Linked DNA regions of Homo sapiens: region 1 is linked to region 2. Evidence: fine-mapped expression QTL. Tissue or cell type: unexposed skin. Region 2 holds a variant in brackets; the other region holds the start of a gene. All regions are shown on one strand. Distances are from middle to middle.

Region 1 (8,591 bases), 33 kb after region 2:
CACATAAGAGAGGGTGTACCCTGGTGCAGGACCAGGCCTGGCACACGTGTTAGATGGCTCCAAGGTGCCCAGGAGAGACTGTCAGGGGCAGGAAAGGAGAAGTCTGTGAACAGCTTGGTATGGCAGTCACTGTGCATGCTGTGTCTGGATGTTGTTCACCAGGCAGGTCCACATCCCCTCCCCACCTCAGCCAGGGGAGCTGCAGGTCGTAATTCAAAACAGAGTGTCTCCGCCAGAGGCCCGGGAGGTCGCACAACATCCCCTTCCCCAGGGGAACCAATGGCTGCCTGACAGTGGGTACAAAAGCTCAAAGCTTGGTCTCTTCGCCTGAAGGCAGGACAACCTGCAGGCAGCCTCCCTTCCCTATCCAGCTGCCCAACAGAGCACTTTCTCTGTAAACTAGGGCAGCAGAATCCTGCCTCAGGCTCCACCCCTGGGAAACCAATCTGAGCCACTCACTTTCTCCAAGACAGCGCCCCCTTGCTGGAGCACCCAGAATACCCTGGGACTCCATGACAGGGAAAGAATCAATGAGGAGGCAACTTCAACCCAGCAGAAAGGTGCTCAGACACGGAGCCCTCAGGAAGAAGCAACAGAGCAGTGCTTGGGCTTCAGTGCTAGCCAGTGTTGGCAGGGGAGGAGGTTCCCGAGGTGCCCAAATAACCAGGTTCAAGGCAATGTAAGAAAGGAGCTAGGAGAGGAAACATAAGTGACCGAAAAGAAACCAAAATGCTGCCTGTGATTGTATTACAGCTGGAAGATTATGGCATGATTTCTTTTTCGTCTGTTCTCCCAGTTTTTGATATGAGGTCGTTTTGTATATACCTTTAAAAGGAGCAAATGTAATATACTTTATGGAACACTTTCAATAATGCAAAATATCTAGAAGGAATCAGGAACTTGTCACAAAACCAGTGCTGGCTGGGTGCAGTTGGAGAGAATTAGAGCCTGGCAAATTAGCCAGAGGCTGCCAGTCCCCAGGTCTAATGGCGTGGGACAGGGAGGGGTCCCAGCAGCTCCTGCTCCAACTCAGTGTCCATCGCTACAAGACTTCCCAGAGATCACTTCCCCTTCTGGAGCTCAGGTTTTCCTATATGAAACACAGGCTGTTTAAACTAGGTGACCTCTAAGGTTCCCCTGGCCCGAAAACTGTCCAATTTTGATGTTATAAAATAAAAAAAATAGGAAAAGTAAACATGAAGCTGTTGGCTCAGGCACACACAGTGATTTCTGTAAACTTAGAGCTCAGCTGCAAATTCAATGGATGTGCAAATGTTCCCACAGGGTCTGGCAGAATTCTCATTTTCTTTTTCGTCTGAGAGACTTAACAATGAACTTTCTGGATGAAGAGGTAATGTTCCTCCCAGGTTTAGAGGACTGTGGATATATGTCTATAGGCCAGCTCTTAAAATCTCCAGAGCAGATTCTTCAAAACTGCAGCAATAGACGACTACACTAGGAACAGCAATACTAAAAATAAAGAAAATATTCTCAATGCTTGATTGACAGAATGTCTTCCTGTCAAGTTAAGGGGGAATCACAATTTCCAAACACCTCTGAGAAGACACTTTGAATAGCAGTCACACATCTGCAGTCACACATCTGCAATACAAACTACAGATCAACGCCAAACACGTTATAAGGTACTTAGCACTTCTCTGATGCATCAGAGATTAAGAATGTTTTTTCCCTTTTTCCTACCAAGTAAATTAAAATCCACCAACACCCTTCAGCTCCTCTCAGAAAAGAAAATGATGTTGGGGGGGAAAAAAGTGTTGTTAGTTTAGAAAAAGAAAAAAGTACAGCTATAGAATCTCAGAGAAAGTAACACACAAATATATCCAAAGGGATTCACTTGAAGCCAGCTGTTTTTAATAACCAGTTTCCTCTTTCTTGCCCACATACTGAGAGGACAGACAGCTTCAACAAGAGAATGAGCATGTATCCCCGCCACAGTATTGACTAACAGCTGATTTTCCCACACAAGACTAGGCCTTAGACTGGGATACAGAAAACCTAATGCCCAAGTTCAGCCTCTGGCATCAGGCCAGAAATAGGAGCCTCCAGGTGCATAAAGCACTAAAACCAAAATGCAATGGGCTGACCTAGTACGTCTTGATTTCAGGAAGGAGACCTTCAAAAAAGAAATAGGGCAGGCCGGGTGCAGTGGCTCACGCCTGTAATCCCAGCACTTTGGGAGGCAGAGGCGGCGGGATCACTTGAGGTCAGGAGTTCGAGACCAGCCTGACCAACATAGTGAAACCCCATCTTTACTAAAAATACAAAAATTGGCCAGACAAGCCAGGCATGGTGGCTCACGCCTGTAATCTCAGCATTTTGGGAAGCTGAGGCAGGTGGATCGCTTGAGGAGTTCTCCTTGGTCTTGAGGAGTTCAAGACCAGCCTGGCCAACACAGTGAATCCAGAGTTTGAGACCAGCCTGGCCAACATAGTGAAACCCCGTCTCTACTAAAATGCAAAAAACTAGCTGGGTGTTGTGGCGGGCGCCTGTAATCCCAGCTACTCGGGAGGCTGAGGCAGGAGAATCGCTTGAACCGGGGAGGCGGAAGTTGCAGTGGACAGAGATCGCGCCATTGCACTCCAGCCTGGGCAACAAGGGCTGGAGTGCACTCTAAAAACAAACAAACAAACAAACAAAATTAGCCAGGTGGCCTGCACCTGTAATCCCAGCTACGAGGCGGGAGAATCGCTTGAACCCGGGAGGTGGAGGTTGCAGTGAGCCGAAATCGCACCACTGCACGTCAGCATGGACGACAAAGCAAAACTCCGTCTCAAAAAAAAAAAAAAAAAAAAAAAAAGAAAGAAAGAAATAGGGCAAATAGTGCAAGCAACAGAGAAAGCTGGCTGGTCTGAGCTTCGGGCATCACACTTACATACACGCACAGACTAATACTCAAACAGGCTTGACACACACATGTCCAGGCTTACACACATGGCTGTCACGTGGTCACACCCCGTTCTGCCTCAACCTTGACCCAGTCTTGAAACAGAAATAAAGGGAGCAACTACTGAGCATCCTGGGGGTGGGAAGGGCGGAAGCCCATCTTTTCACCCCTAGGACGGCTGGGCTGGGAAGCTAAGGGCGCTCAGTCGTGCCCACGCAGCCTTGCCAGGGGCAGGAGCTCCATTTCCCCTGGTCTGCAAAATGGAAGGGCTGGACTGCACCGCCCTGTCAGTGTCGGTCTCTGGTTTCATGGGTCCCTGTGGTTCCACAGGGTCACACTCCGCATCCGACCCCTTGGAGAACTCCCAACCCGAGAGGGAGGGTGATGGAAATGCCCTGAGCATCAGGACCCGCGCCGAGGCAGCCTGAGGGGAAGCGCCGGCCTGCCTCGTCTCACTTCGCCTCTGTAAAGCGGCCCCTGGGCTTCCCTCCAAAACTCCTTTCCTCCAGGGTCTCCGTTCCTCCCCGCGACGCTAGGCGCTGCGCTTCGTTTCACAGACTCACTTCCCACGCCAGGGCGAGGGCGGTCACAGACAAACCCGAGCTGGGGTCCCAGACTCAAGGGAAGTGCGGCCCAGCTGCCCCGGCGCCCCCTCCCGGGTCAGGCCGGCTCGGGCCCGGCCGGCTTGGGCCCTGCGGTCCCAGACGCCGCTCCCCAGGCCACCCCTCCTCCCGCACAACCCAGAACACGCGGGTCACGGCCGCCAGGCTGCGCCCGCTCTGCTCGCGCCTCAGCGGCGCGGAGGCCCGGACGGCGCCATGACATGAGCAGTGGTGGCGACCCACGCGCACCCGCCGCTCCGAGTGCTGCAGCCTAGCGCCCAGCGAGAGCGCGCCGCGCACCTGCCGGCTCTGCCGGCCTCCCGGCGCCCGCCCAGCCTCTCAGCGCGAAGGCCCAGCCCGGCCCACGGCGCCCGCCCGGCCCGGCCGCGCGCCTCACCAGCGGTAGCAGCCCTCCGAGGCCTCCAGCGTGAAGTTAACGCGCGTGGCCCGCGTGAAGGGCAGCAGCACTTTGGGGATGTTGAGCTTGGCCGCAGCGGCGGAGGGGCCCGCCGCCAACAGCACCGACAGCGTCAGCAGCAGCAGCCCCCGGCCCCGCGCCGCCATCCTCGCCGCGCGTCACCTCCCGCGACCCTGCGCCCGGCCGCCCGCGCCGCCCCGTTGCCCTCCGCTCCCGCCCGCGCGCGCGCCAGGCCAGCAGGTGATGAGCGCGGGGGCGGGGCGAGGGCCGTCGGCGGCCGCCGCTTCCTGGGCCTGAGCGCGGGAACTCTGGGGGCCGAGCTCGCGGCGACCCCACCCCCAGCCCGGCCCTCGCGCAGGGACGCGGGGCTGGGGGATGGGCGCGCGCCCGGGCCCCCGGAGCTGAGGGAGAAGGCTTGGGGCGCGCCCGCGGGGACCCCTGGACCCTAGAAGTCCCAAGGGGGAGCCCCCGGGGCGCCCCGCAGCACGCATCCCGCCCTGGTATTTGCCCCTGGCGGTGGAGCCAAGCCGCCGGCTTTGGACCTTGCGCTCTGGCCCGGACCCACGGTCAGCAAGGAAGGGACACATGCCCCAGGACATTTGGGATGCAGAAAACCGGCGCCTGCCTTGTCCCAGCCCATGCTTCCCAGAAGAGGGACCCCGGGCTCGCAAAGGGAAGCCACCTGCTGAAGCGCTGAAGGCCCGGGGCCCGCTCCCCCTCGACCCCCTCACACCCTTTCCAGAGAGGCCTTAAGATTCCCATTTCTCCAGGAAAAAACCGGTTGAATGGCCCCCAGATCACTCAGCCAGAGAGCCCCAAGCTCTTGTCCTCCGCACTGCACCCCCTGCGGAAGCCATTAGAGGTTACCTATAGGTCATTTAGGGCGCCAACGCTGCCAGAGCACAACCCCCTCCACGGCCCCCACACCCACAAAAGAAAGTTTAGCACCGCGGAATCCACCTGCACACCAATGGAAGGCCTTAGATTCCGCGCTGTGCTCTGTGGCTTTTAGCTGTCTGTCGTGAATTGCATGAAGGCATGCGTCAGCAGGCACCTGACTGCTTGGTGCCGCTAAAATATGAATCTAGCCTTGCAGAGAAGGCCCAGCCTAGCGGGAGGTCAGGAAAGGGTGGGGTGAGGGTGCACTGGCCGGCTGTCTGAGGAGTGCAGGAAGTGGATGCTGACTGTAACCAGGAAGACACACAACGATGCCACTGGGTGACCAGGAAGGAGAGGATAAATGTCAGTAAGGCTAGGAAGGCTTTTTGGAGGCGGCGGCCCCTGGGTTGGGCATAGACACCGCACTGGGCTTCAGCGAGGCCCGCATAGGCTGAGCCTGCCCCTCAGGGATCATGGGGCTTTTGGATGGTGATGCGGGGTGTTTGGGGTCACCCTCGAAGCCTGAGGGCCCTAGACCAGGGAATGTGTGTGTTGGGGGAAATCTCTGGAGATAACCAGAACTAAGGGGGTGAGGGTCGGCCCTGTGTGGAACCAGGTGCTCTGGGAGGGGAATTCCAACGGGCTCCCTTTGAAGAAACAAAAAACAGACTTGCGCGGAAAAGGCAGCCTCAGAGGGTATTTGTGAGGAAGTCTGTGGGTGTCTTCTGGGTTGCACAAGATTGATTTGTTTTCCAACAGGTAATCCAGACAGATGGTTGAAACTTAGGCTCAAAAGGGTTCCAAGTGAAAGTGATTCCTCTCCCTCCCCATCACCCAATACCCTTCCCTACAGGCAATGAGTGTTTCCCACTTGAGTATACATCCAGAGAAATTTTATGCATAAACAAGCATATATATATATAAAACATGGCACACATGCACACACATACACATACATGCACACACATATGTATATATGAAATATGGCACATATACATACATATACATATGTCTTGCGAGGCAGGTAAATCTCACTCTTGGACATATATCCTAGAGAAATGAAAAGTGATGTTCCCACAATCACCTGTACATAAAACATTCATAGCAGCTTTATCAAATAGGCCCAAACTGGAAACAGCACAGAGGTCCTTCATGGGTGATGATTAAATACTGTGGCACATCTATGCCATGGAATATTATTCAGCAAAAAAAGAAATGAACTGCTAATACATCCATCTTGGATGAAGCTCCAGGGAATTATACGGACTGGAAAACAAACACTACAAAAGCACAAAAGGTTACATACTGTAAACTTGCTTTTATACAAGATTATTGAGTTGGCAAAATTATAGAAGTATAGAGCAGGTGAGTGATTGTGGGGTCAGGGGCGGCGTGGCATAGGAAGTGATGTGGCTATAAAAGGTCAACATGAGGAGTCCCTGGGATGGAAGTGCTTGGTGGCTTGACTGTATCAATGTCCATTTCCTGGTTGTGATATTATCCCATAGTTTTGCAAGATGTCTACTAGTGGAAACGGGGTAAAGGGCACATATTATAGCATCTCTCTTGTTATTTGTTACAACTGCATGTAATCTACAATTATCTCAAAAAAAGAATCATACAAACAGGCCCAGCAAAACACATCTGAGTGGACACAGCTTGCTAAACAACTACGTTTCAGGTGATTTAAGGCAATCAGGAAATTTTCCCAGCAGAAAACAATCCATGGAAGACAACAAAATGGGCCGGGTGCGGTGGCTGTCACCTGTAATCCCAGCACTTTGGGAGGCCAAGGTGGGCAGATCACCTGAGGTCAGGAGTTTGAGACCAGCCTGGCCAACATGGCAAAACCCTATCTCTACTAAAAATACAAAAAGTCGCCAGACATGGTGGCATGCATCTGTAATCCCAGCTACTGGGGAGGCTGAGGCAGGAGAATCACTTGAACCTGGGAGGTGGAGGTTGCAGTGAGCTGGGATCAAGCCACTGCACTACAGCATGTGCAACAAGAAACTCCATCTCAAAAAAAAAAAGGCAACAAAATGATGGGTAAAACATTTTCCATCTGAGATTTTATCCCTTTACGTTGTCCTTAAACTTGCCCCCAGACCCCATTTCACTTGCCTACAAACCTGGTATGAGATGGTATTTGGGGCCAAGCCAGGGGTCCATGTGTAGGGGCCACCCCCACCTTCTCTGTGGGCTGTTTCCACTCCCTGGCATTGGGCCCCTTCTTTGGGTGTCAGTGTTTATCTGAGATGCAGGGAGCCAGCCATGGACAATGGCCTGAGCACAGCCTTCTGTCCTGGCACAGAGACCCTCTGGGCTGGAAGAGACCACAGATTTGAGTGAGCCGGTTACCCACCTGATAACTAAAACCAGATAGGAAAATGTCTCCTGACCCACATCAGGGTCTCCCAAACTTCTGTTACTTTCTACCACCCTAAAACATTTTAAAAAATAATATCTATCTGAGTGCCACTTGTGCTGTTATTTCCTGTCTTTAAATCAAAGTGTTTACATATATTTACTTAAGAAGCAAACTTTGTCTCTTCTGTTAATAAAAAGCCATTATCAGTTTGCAAAATATAATAGAAGTAGCCATAAAATAAATACAGCGAAACAAAAGAATGCCTTCAAATTACCGCAGGATACTATTTCTTGCTAAAGGCTGAGAGCCCAAGGCCTGCTCTCAGGGCCTTCAGTGGGAAGATAACCAAACACAAGACAGTGTGAAGGACAAACCACACTAATCTTGACCTTTCTCCTTGGGCATACAAGTATGGAGAGATTTTTCAAGGCAATTAACTTTTTCCTAGGGGGACGTTGTCCTTTTAGAGCCTACCCACCATCTTTTTGTGACAACAGTAATTTTTATTTGTATTTCATTTATTTATTTATTTTTGAGACAGGGTCTCTCACTCTGTCACCCAGGCTGGAGTGCAGTGGTGCAATCTCAGCTCACCACAGCCTCTACCTCCTGGGCTCCAGCCATCCTCCCATCTCAACCTCCTGAGTAACTGGGATTATAGGTGTGTGCCACCACATCCAGCTAATTTTTGCTTTTTGTTTTGTTTTGTTTTGTTTGTAGAGACAGGGTTTCGCCATGTTGCCCTGGCTGGTCTCGAACTCCTGGACTCAAAGGATCTGTGCCCCTTGGCCTCCCAAAGTGCTGGGATTACAGCCATGAGCCACTGTGCCCAGCCCAAACAGTAATTTTAAAGAATCATTCTGCAGTGGGGAAACTTAAAGAGTCATAGAGTAGACAGTGGTATAATGAAGCCCCATGACTGTCCAGTTCTGTGGCCACAATCCACAGCCAATTCTGCTGCTTCTGCAGTCACCACAGGCCCCACCCTATCTCATTTTGAAACAAATCCAAGATATCCTGTCATTTCGTCTGTATTTCAGTTTGTATCGCTAAGAGATAAGGACCCTTTTATAGACATAACCACAATACTATTATCACACATAAAAAAGTTAACAGTAATCTTATGGTCATAAAATATTATTAGAGTTCAAATTTCCAACTGTCTCATACATTCATAATACCTTTTTACAGTTTATACTTTCAGAATCAGGATATAAGTAAAGTTCACACATTGCAATTGATTGAAATGTCTTTTAAGGCTCTTTCAATCTATAGGCTTCCTTCCCCATTTCTCCTTTTCTCCCTGAATTTAAATGTTGCCCTTTGACCTCTGGAGTAGACATTTGTGTTTTCAGACACCCCCAAGCTGAGTCCCCACTAGCCTGGGCCCTACTGCAGCAGCAATGGGGGTTTCCG
Region 2 (8,591 bases):
TTTTCTAGGTACCTTGGGAGGTGCAGTTCCTCTGGGCTGTGATACCTGAGCTAATTTAGAGTGAGCTCTTTTTTTTTTTTTTTTTTTTTTTTGAGACAGAGTCTCACTCTGTCGCCCAGGCTGGAGTGCAGTGGTGCGATCTCAGCTACTGCAACATCCTCTGCCTCCCGGGTTCAAGCAATTCTCCTGCCTCAGCCTCCTGAGTAGCTGGGACTACAGGTGTGTGCCACCATGCCCAGCTAATTTTTTTCTGTATTTTTAGTAGAGACAGGGTTTCACCATGTTAGCCAGGATGGTCTCGATTTCCTGACCTCATGATCCGCCCGCCTCGGCCTCCCAAAATGCTGGGATTACAGGTGTGAGCCACCGTGCCTGGCCGAGTGAGCTCTTTCTAAAGTCAGCCCATCCCCTCTTAACTACATGGGCTCTGCTTGCCCAGCTGGGGCAGTTTCATGCCCCATGAGTCCCATGCAAATGGACCACCTCACCGCTGCCCTGGGAGACTGTAAGGCCCTGTTTTTGTTTGTTTGTTTTGAGACAGTCTCGCTCTGTCACCCAGGCTGGAGTGCAATGGCGCAATCTCGGCTCACTGCAACCTCCACCTCCTGGGTTCAAGTGATTCTCCTGTCTCAGCCTCTTGAGTAGCTGGGATTACAGGCGTGCGCCACCACACCTGGCCAATTTTTGTATTTTTAGTAGAGGCGGGGTTTCACCATGTTGGTCAGGCTGGTCTCGAACCCCTGACCTCGTGATCCGCCCGCCTCAGCCTCCCAAAGTGCTGGGATTATGGGCGTGAGCCACCACGCCCGGCCGGCCCTGTTGTTATAATTAGCTTTTTTCTGGGTTTCCTTTGGGGAGAAGCGGCAGAGGGAAATTCCAATTGATCCTACAGGGGTGATTAAGGCCAAGGAGTCCAACAGTTTTGTGAGCTTCAGGTCTTCTATGCCTCAGTTTTCCTCATGTATGAAACAGGGTATTAATGAAATCTACCTCATAGAGCTGTTGGGTTATATCCAGGTACACAACTGTAGTCCCAGCTACTCAGAAGAAATGAGGCAGGAGGATGGCTTGAGGCCAGCAGTTTGAGATCAGACTGGTCAACATAGCAAGACCAAGTCTCTAAAAAATAAAATAAAGTAACTTTAAAAAGAAAAGCACTTACAACTGCCCAACACTGAGGAAATGTTCAGTCATGGTTAGGTGCTGTCAGCAGTGACTAGGCTCTCCAAGCGTCTTCCTTCAGGCCGCAGTGCCATTTCTTGATCAGTGTTCATGGATAATTTTATATTTCTGAGACCTCCTGTTTGTGCCCTCTGGCCTTTCAACACGCTTCCCCTTTGCATTCTTCCTTAGGCTGCTGTCCTCAGAACTCTATCTTGGAGCCTCCTCCCCTTTCAGAGTCTCAGAAAGCCACATCTTGGACTGTCCCTGTCCTAGAATCTGCCTCCCTGAAGTCAGGTAAACATCGGGCTCTGACCAGGACACCCACGCTTGGCTTCCTACAAATCCTACTGCAGGCCATCCTCCTGTTGACTTGACATCCTGCTGAAGGGCAGATGCTGCTTGCCCAGAATCAAGAAACATGAGTTTGCTTCTCTTCAACTAGGACCCCCTTGCCAGAAAGAACTGGGCCCAAAGGCAGGAGCGCCTGTCTTCAGTTTTTTTGTCCTCCTGAGAGAAAGCGTTCTGCCACACAGGAATGACCAACCAGGTGACTGCTCTCAGTTGAGCAGGACTTTAAACAATGCAGCACCTCCCATCAACTGGAGACACCACTCAAGTTGCTCTTATGCTGAAGTGTGTATCTGCCTGCCTCTTAAGTGACACCCTGTATCACAGGTGGAACCAACCTACCAACCTGGCAAACTCACCTGACTGAGGCCCTCGGATGGACTGGACCTGAGAGCTCTTATGCCCATGACCCTTCAGGTCCTATGCTCTGGATGTTAAACATACACAGCTTTGAACAAAATGATAATGATCCTTAGGAGGACTGGCGCTCCATTGAGAACCGTCACTATCTAAACACAAGTACACAGTACAACTACACTCCTATTGATTCATTTTGTCCTCACAGCCCAGGCAGAAAGGCCTCAAAGCCTCCAATGAGAAACAGCCCTGGAGAAGGGCAGTGGCTTGTCCAAGTTTGTTCAGTTGTCAGTTGCAGACCGGGGCAAAGCCCAGCTAAACACAAAGCCCACAGCTCTGGACTTGCTGCCACTGAAAGGGCATATACCCCAAAGAATTTGAAAGCAGGGACTCAGATATTTGCTCACTATGTTCACAGCAGCATTACTCACAATGGCCAAAAAGTGGAAGCAACCCAAGTGTCTGCTGATGGATGAATGGGTAGATGAATGGGTAAACAGAATGTGGTCTATCCATCCACACAATGGAGCACTATTCAGCCTTAAAAGGGAAGGGAATTCCAACCCTTGCTACAACATGGATGAAACTTGAAGACATCAGGCTAGGAAAAAAGTGATATAAGCCAGTTACAAAAAAATAAATACTATATGATTCCACGTACATGAGGTAACCAGAGTAGTCACATTCACAGAGACAGGAAATAGAGTGATGAGTGCCAAGGGCTGGGAGAGGGTGAAGGGGAGTTAGTGTTTAACAATGCAGAGCTTCAGTTTGGGAAGATGAACGAGTTCTGTGGATGGATGATGGTGATGGCTGCAGAAGAGTGTGAATGTACTTGATGCTACCTGATGGAGCACTTAAAAATGGTTAAGATGGTAAATTTTGTTACATGTATGTAACCACAATAAAAAAAGGAGGAAGGAAGCATCTGTCATGATGGCAGAGCCAATGACACACCTGTAATTTTCCCTTGCCTGATCTTCTGCACCTTGTAGTGAATGGAGGTTCCCACCATCAGGTAGACGTCATAGGCCGGGTTCAGAAGGATGTTTTCCAAAATCAGCAGCCTGACTTCTGCAGGGCGTACATTCTTGGCATAAAGAAAAGGCAGACAAAGTGAGGTGCGGACAGGGAATGGGGAAGTGGTGGTGTGAGCAAGAGAAAGAGATGTTTTAAACATGGGAATAGGGAAGTTAAGAGGAAAGAAACAAGATATCATTCCCAAATCCTCACTTTCAGAACCCAGAGGTCCCAGGGGAGCTCCATAAGTATAGCAGGCACCCAGAAAAAGGGCATTACCCAGACTGAGCCCTCACACTGACTGCCCATTGTGCATGGTTTATCTCTATGTGAAACCATGATTAAACTGGAGTAAAAGAGGAGAGCCAGGGTGAACTCTAGGGATGCTATGGCCACCGGGAGCTCAAGTTCTCTCCACACAAAAGCCCAAGGTCCAGGGAACTTGAGAAGCCCCAGGCCAACATAAAAAGCAGGAGAGGCATATGCTGTGATGAGCCTTGGCTGCTATTCCTTGACCCCTTCCCCTGCCCGCCTTTCACCCCCGACCTGTGACCTCCTGCCTCCTCAGGAAAACCCGTGGGCAACTTCGCAATGGGAGAAAGATCACTAGGTGCCCTGTCTAGTGCACCCTTAGGTACTGGATTCTCCAGAGGCCTGCACCTTTCATTGTCTTTGGCCTGTTTGATGGCAGTGTACATTGTAGAAAAGCGACAACACAGCAAATGATTCTTGTCCACAGAAACACAAAAACATTTCCTCAGGTGAAGGCGCAGCTGACTGCCCTCCTGTGGGTGTGGGCATTCTACATTTTTCTGAGTTCAGTTCAGCATGCCTGGTGTCCTGTGGCAACTCTTTGGATTCTCCTTTAAGCCTGCTGTCACAACTGACAGCTTTCCTCACTTAACAACTAGTTAATATCTTCAGTGTGTCCAAAACAGACAAGTGTATTGGGCACCACCATGGGCAGGGCTCTGTGGCGGCTGCTTTCCAGCACGCAGGCAGGGAGGGCCACTGAATGTCTATGGGCAGGACAGCAAGTCTGCCTTTCCAGCTTAGCAGTGTGGCTGTACCCCATCCCAGCCTGGGCCCTACACAGGAGCAAACTGTCTCTAAGTACTACCTGCAGAGTCCT[A/G]CGGGATTAGCCCCTATAACAGGGCATGTCCCCATGTTTCCATAACTTTCCAGGACTCCCAGATGCAGCAAACCCACTACAGAGAGTGAATCAGAAGAGGATTTCTCCGTCTGCCACTTTACAAAATTAAATGGCAGGCCAAGTACCACAGTGTTCCTGCCTGTGCTCCAGACACTAGGCAAACAAAAATATCTCAGGGTTGCAGCTCAAAACGAGGCACTGGTTGGGTGGACATTAGTCCACAGGGACAGAGAAGGAACCAGGACGTTGGATAGACCCACTCCTCACTCTCCTTTCCTCTGGCATACCCCCACTACCCTAAGAATGGGATGCTGGTGAGGCCAGGAAGACATGGGATCGGCTGGGGCAGGGGGTTGAGGTGATCTACACATAGGATCCCTGGGCCACCAGTCTCAGGGCTCCAATGGGGGCCCAAGGAGAGACAGCATAGAAGACACCCAGGAGCCCCAGGTTTTGTCAAAGCCCCAAGTGCTTGGGAGTGTCCCTATACCAGCACGGTGGGGGCACCAGTTGGAAACAGGTGAGTTACTGGAAACCTCCTGCTCTTGGACCTCCCTAGAAACTAAGAATGAGCAAATGCTATGCACCCCTAGAGATGCTTTCTGGGGCCTCAACCACCTTTCTTTGTAAGCTGAGGCTCAAACAAACCAAACCAAACACATAAAAATATGAACCCACATCCTGAAATCACGGGACAGCATCTCACTTCCACTATTCAACGTGCCTATAGGTGTGATGGTACCTATAAGCAGGTACCGTCAGCCTGATTCCACCCCAGGAAGCCCACTGACACCCCAGCGCCCCAGGCCCACCTTGTAGACAGCCTCCTGGATGCGAGCCTTGAGCTTGGAGCTCCCGGTCTTCATCCCAGACACCAGGATGGTGTCCCCTTGCTTGGCAGCCTTCTCCATCTCTGAGATGTAAGAAGGAGGGATGTACGTAGACTCCAAGAAAGTGAGGATTCTGGAAAAGGAGCACGTTGTCAAAGTTTGTTGATCAAACCCCAACACAAGATTTGTCAGAATCTACCACAGCATTCCCTATCAGTACCTCCCACTGGGGCTGATGCTGAAATAAGGGGTGTCCCCCTAGTCAGGGCTGGGGCTGCCTAGAGACACGGCCCTGCAGCTTCCTACATCAGAACTGCCAAAGTCCTTGTGAAAAATGCAGATACTTGGCCCCTGGCCCAGGCTTTGTCTCCAAGATGCCTGGGAATCTGCATTTTATCCACACGCACACGTGACGTAAATACTAACATGCGAGACCAGCTGCTGAGTCCACATGGGAACAGTGAGGCCCGGGAGATGAGGCAGCAGGCCCAAGAGCACAGCCCAGTCACAGCAGGGCCAGCAGCACCCTCACCTCCCCGAGGCTGCCTGCTCCTGTCCAACCTCCCCGGCCTAGCGCCCAGCTCTGGGGAACGATTCTCCATGACTGGTCCCCTAGCCCTGGGCACCAGACGGCACCATGTCTCACTCTCCCTGGATCCCAGCTTGGGGAGATGTCGGGGACGTGGTGTAGCCTGGAGTGTGGGCTGCTGGGCAGGCGGACTTCAGGGATCCTTCCCACGCAGCCTCCCACTTCAGCCTGCATTTACAAACGAGCCCACTGTTCCCCTGCACAAGAGCAATCTGCCAATGCTGGGCCGCACTGTGATTTATTTCCTCGCCTGGTTACTCTAGGTGTCACACGCCAAATTACAAATCCAGGACAATCCAGCTCCAACCCGCCTTGGCATCTGGGATTTCTGTTAGCATTTGGCTCAGGTGCAGAGCTAGCTGCCTGGAAGCTCAAGGGGTGGGGAATGGGGTATTGTCAGAAGGGGACAGGGATTCAGCATCCCCTCAACATCCAGCGTGTGCCAGGCCCAGAGAGGGGCCCTGAGTGGATCAACCCACTGAGCTGTACAGTGGCCCTCAGAGGCAGGCACGGGATTCCCTCCAGCTCTGTTTCCCAGGGCAGGAGGCTGAGGCTCAGGTGGGTAACGTTCCCTGGCTAAGGACACAGGCAGGAAGCGACAAAGCCAGGACTGGAATCCAGGTCTCTGACTCTCTGGCCCATGGTCATTGTTTTACAAAACACCAGAACCCACAGAGCTGGTCCAGCAGGCTGTCTCCACAAGGGCAACTCGGCTCACAAAGGCGTCAGGACATGAGGACGTCGGCCTGGAGTTGCTGTAAGCTGAGCCCTGGAGAAGGCTGTGACAGAGGAACCACCACATCCCCAACATCCCCTACAGCCCAGAGCAGGACTTTAATGGCATAATGAAAGACCAGACAGTAAACTCCCTGACAAAGGACTTATAATTATATAGGGGTGAGAAAGCGCAGAGGCAAGTGGAAGAGCGGAGTCTCACTTCTGTGATGTTCCTGCCAAAGACACAACGTTCGGACCCTGGCCGTGAGGGAACAGCAGACAAACCCAAAACAAGGGCCACTCTACAGATAACTAGACTGTCCTCTTCACAAGCGTTGTGGTGTCCAAAGTCAAAGCCCGGGAGACAGTCCCAGGCTGACAGAGACTAAGAGAAACAGGACACATGCGGCAGGTGACTTGGGGCTGGGATCCTTCTTTTTACTGAAAAGGATAAAGCTGGGACAAATGACCAAACTCGAGTAAGGTCTGAAGACGGCCGGCAACAGTGTTCGTTTCCTAGTGCCATGACTGCATGGTGGCCGTGCAGGACAATGCCCCGATGGTCGTAAAGCACATGAAAATCATCAGGGTGACGGGACATGAGGCTGGCAGCCGGCTCTCAGGTGAATGAGGGAGACCACTTTTTGGACTAAACTGGCAGATTTTCTACAGGCCTAAAATTGCTGCAAAAGGAGACTCAAAAGATTCAAAAACAACTTTAAAAAAGGGACCATGCTTTTTAAAAATCACATGGCAAATCAGGAGGAAGGCGGCACAGTCGGGAATACAAGCTCAGACCTGGGACCTGCACCAGCACCGGCAGAGGACCCGCGTGGCTCTGCTCCTGCCCTGTCCCACATGTGGCAGTGCAGTGAGCCATTGACAGGAGGCTTATGCATCTTAGGAACTGAACTGCTCATTTTCTAACTACAAGTAAATAGCTCTGGGGCCCGTGGCTCCCACGAGACAGTGCAGATCCACGGATCTGAGTTCAGACTCCAGCTCTGTCCTCCCGGAGCTCAGACAAGCGGCTCGGCCTCTCCAAGTCTCAGCCTCCACAACTACTCGATGGAGAGCACAGTGGTGCGCAAGCTCATGTGGCTGCCAGGAGGATGACACAGGTCAAGATGCTTAAGGTGTCCGCCTCACAACTGGTCTTACTATACCGCCATATGGGCGACTCAGCCTGTTCCACCTGAGACCCACCGGCACAGCTGGCCTGTGCCCCAGCCGAAACCTGGCTGCCCTTTAACTGGCCCCCCAGAAGTGCAGCCTGGGGCCACCCACACTTTCCCTGTGCCCTGAGACAGCCATGCATGTCTCATTTCTCCAGCTGGACATCCCAAGCCTCTGACAGCTTCTCACAGGACACTCTCTGGGGGCTGCAGAAGCAGCCAGGCTCCCGCACAATGGTGTGAGTGGATCCCATTCCTCAATCAGACACTCGGAATGTTACGGGCATCCTAGGAGTCTCCCAGACTCCTCAATGACCCAGATGAAAGCCCCCCGCTGGTGAGGAGCTCACAGGTGTCCCCCTTTCCCCTTCCCTTCAAAGGGGCCAGGCCTAGCAGAGGCACCCCTTACCGCAGCGCATTGTGGGAGTCTGAGAACCTGTCCGCCTCGGAGTCCTTCACAATCGTCCACTCGAAGACCAGTCCAGCCAGAGTGCTGAAGGTGTTCCCTATAAGAGCAGATGGGAGAGGCAGACAGATATGGAGTTAATTTCCCAGGGTGGAGGGAGGCGTGATGGGAGCTTCTGCCCCATGCAGGAACCACACTCCACATCACCACCCACCAGGCAGGTGTCATAAACTGTATGTCAGGAGAGGAAACTGAGGCTGAAAGGAATGAAGACACTTACTCATGGTCATGTGACCACCAGGGGGCGAGGCCAGAATTTGAACCTAGGGCTGTCCGATGAAAGCTTGTGCTCTTCCTGCTGTGACTCCCTGCCCTTGACTGCAGGACCAGCTCAGTGCAGTGCATAACACTGCTGCCCCGCACGTCTGTGAGCGGTTTACAATTTAGGAGTCTGCTCGGAAACCTGGGCCATTCATTCCTGCTCACCACTTCCTGGGAGTAAACTCCTCTCCCTCCCTGTGCAGGGGAGGGGACCCAGGGTGGAGGGGCATTACCCAAACTGTCTAGTGTCACATGACTCTTGTCTCTTCACCTTGACTGTGAGACTCCTGAGGTCGTGGGGTAGGTAGGGGGCAAGGAGAGCCAGGCCCAGCCAGCCTTGGCTCTTATGTCCTGGCTTGCTGCCTGGGAGCCTTCTGATCTGTCCTTTCCAATCAAGAAACAGATGCCACATGCAAGTCTAGTTCTCACCTCCTCTTGAAAGGATGAAGATCCACCCACCTGGGCCTCATTCCCTCTGAGAGCCAGAAGCTGCTCGCCCTCTCTAGAAGGG

Evidence for each region.
Region 1: NUP210 starts here. The variant in region 2 is fine-mapped to the expression of NUP210 in unexposed skin (GTEx, PIP 0.97).

Annotation. Positions count from the first base shown.
Region 1 is chr3:13,416,156-13,424,746 of GRCh38, forward strand. NUP210 (nucleoporin 210) reads right to left here and starts at 4,167. Exons shown (of 40, transcript NM_024923.4): 1 at 3,905-4,167. The coding sequence starts at 4,071. RefSeq lists enhancers at 310-459, 520-589 and silencers at 3,382-3,951, 4,002-4,401.
Region 2 is chr3:13,383,449-13,392,039 of GRCh38, forward strand. It overlaps NUP210 (nucleoporin 210), which reads right to left. Exons shown (of 40, transcript NM_024923.4): 4 at 7,763-7,859; 5 at 4,855-5,005; 6 at 2,827-2,959. Among named protein-coding and RNA genes, the nearest start is that of NUP210, 33 kb to the right of the region's middle. RefSeq lists enhancers at 5,086-5,586, 7,390-7,948. The variant A/G (reference allele first, on the strand shown) is at 4,022.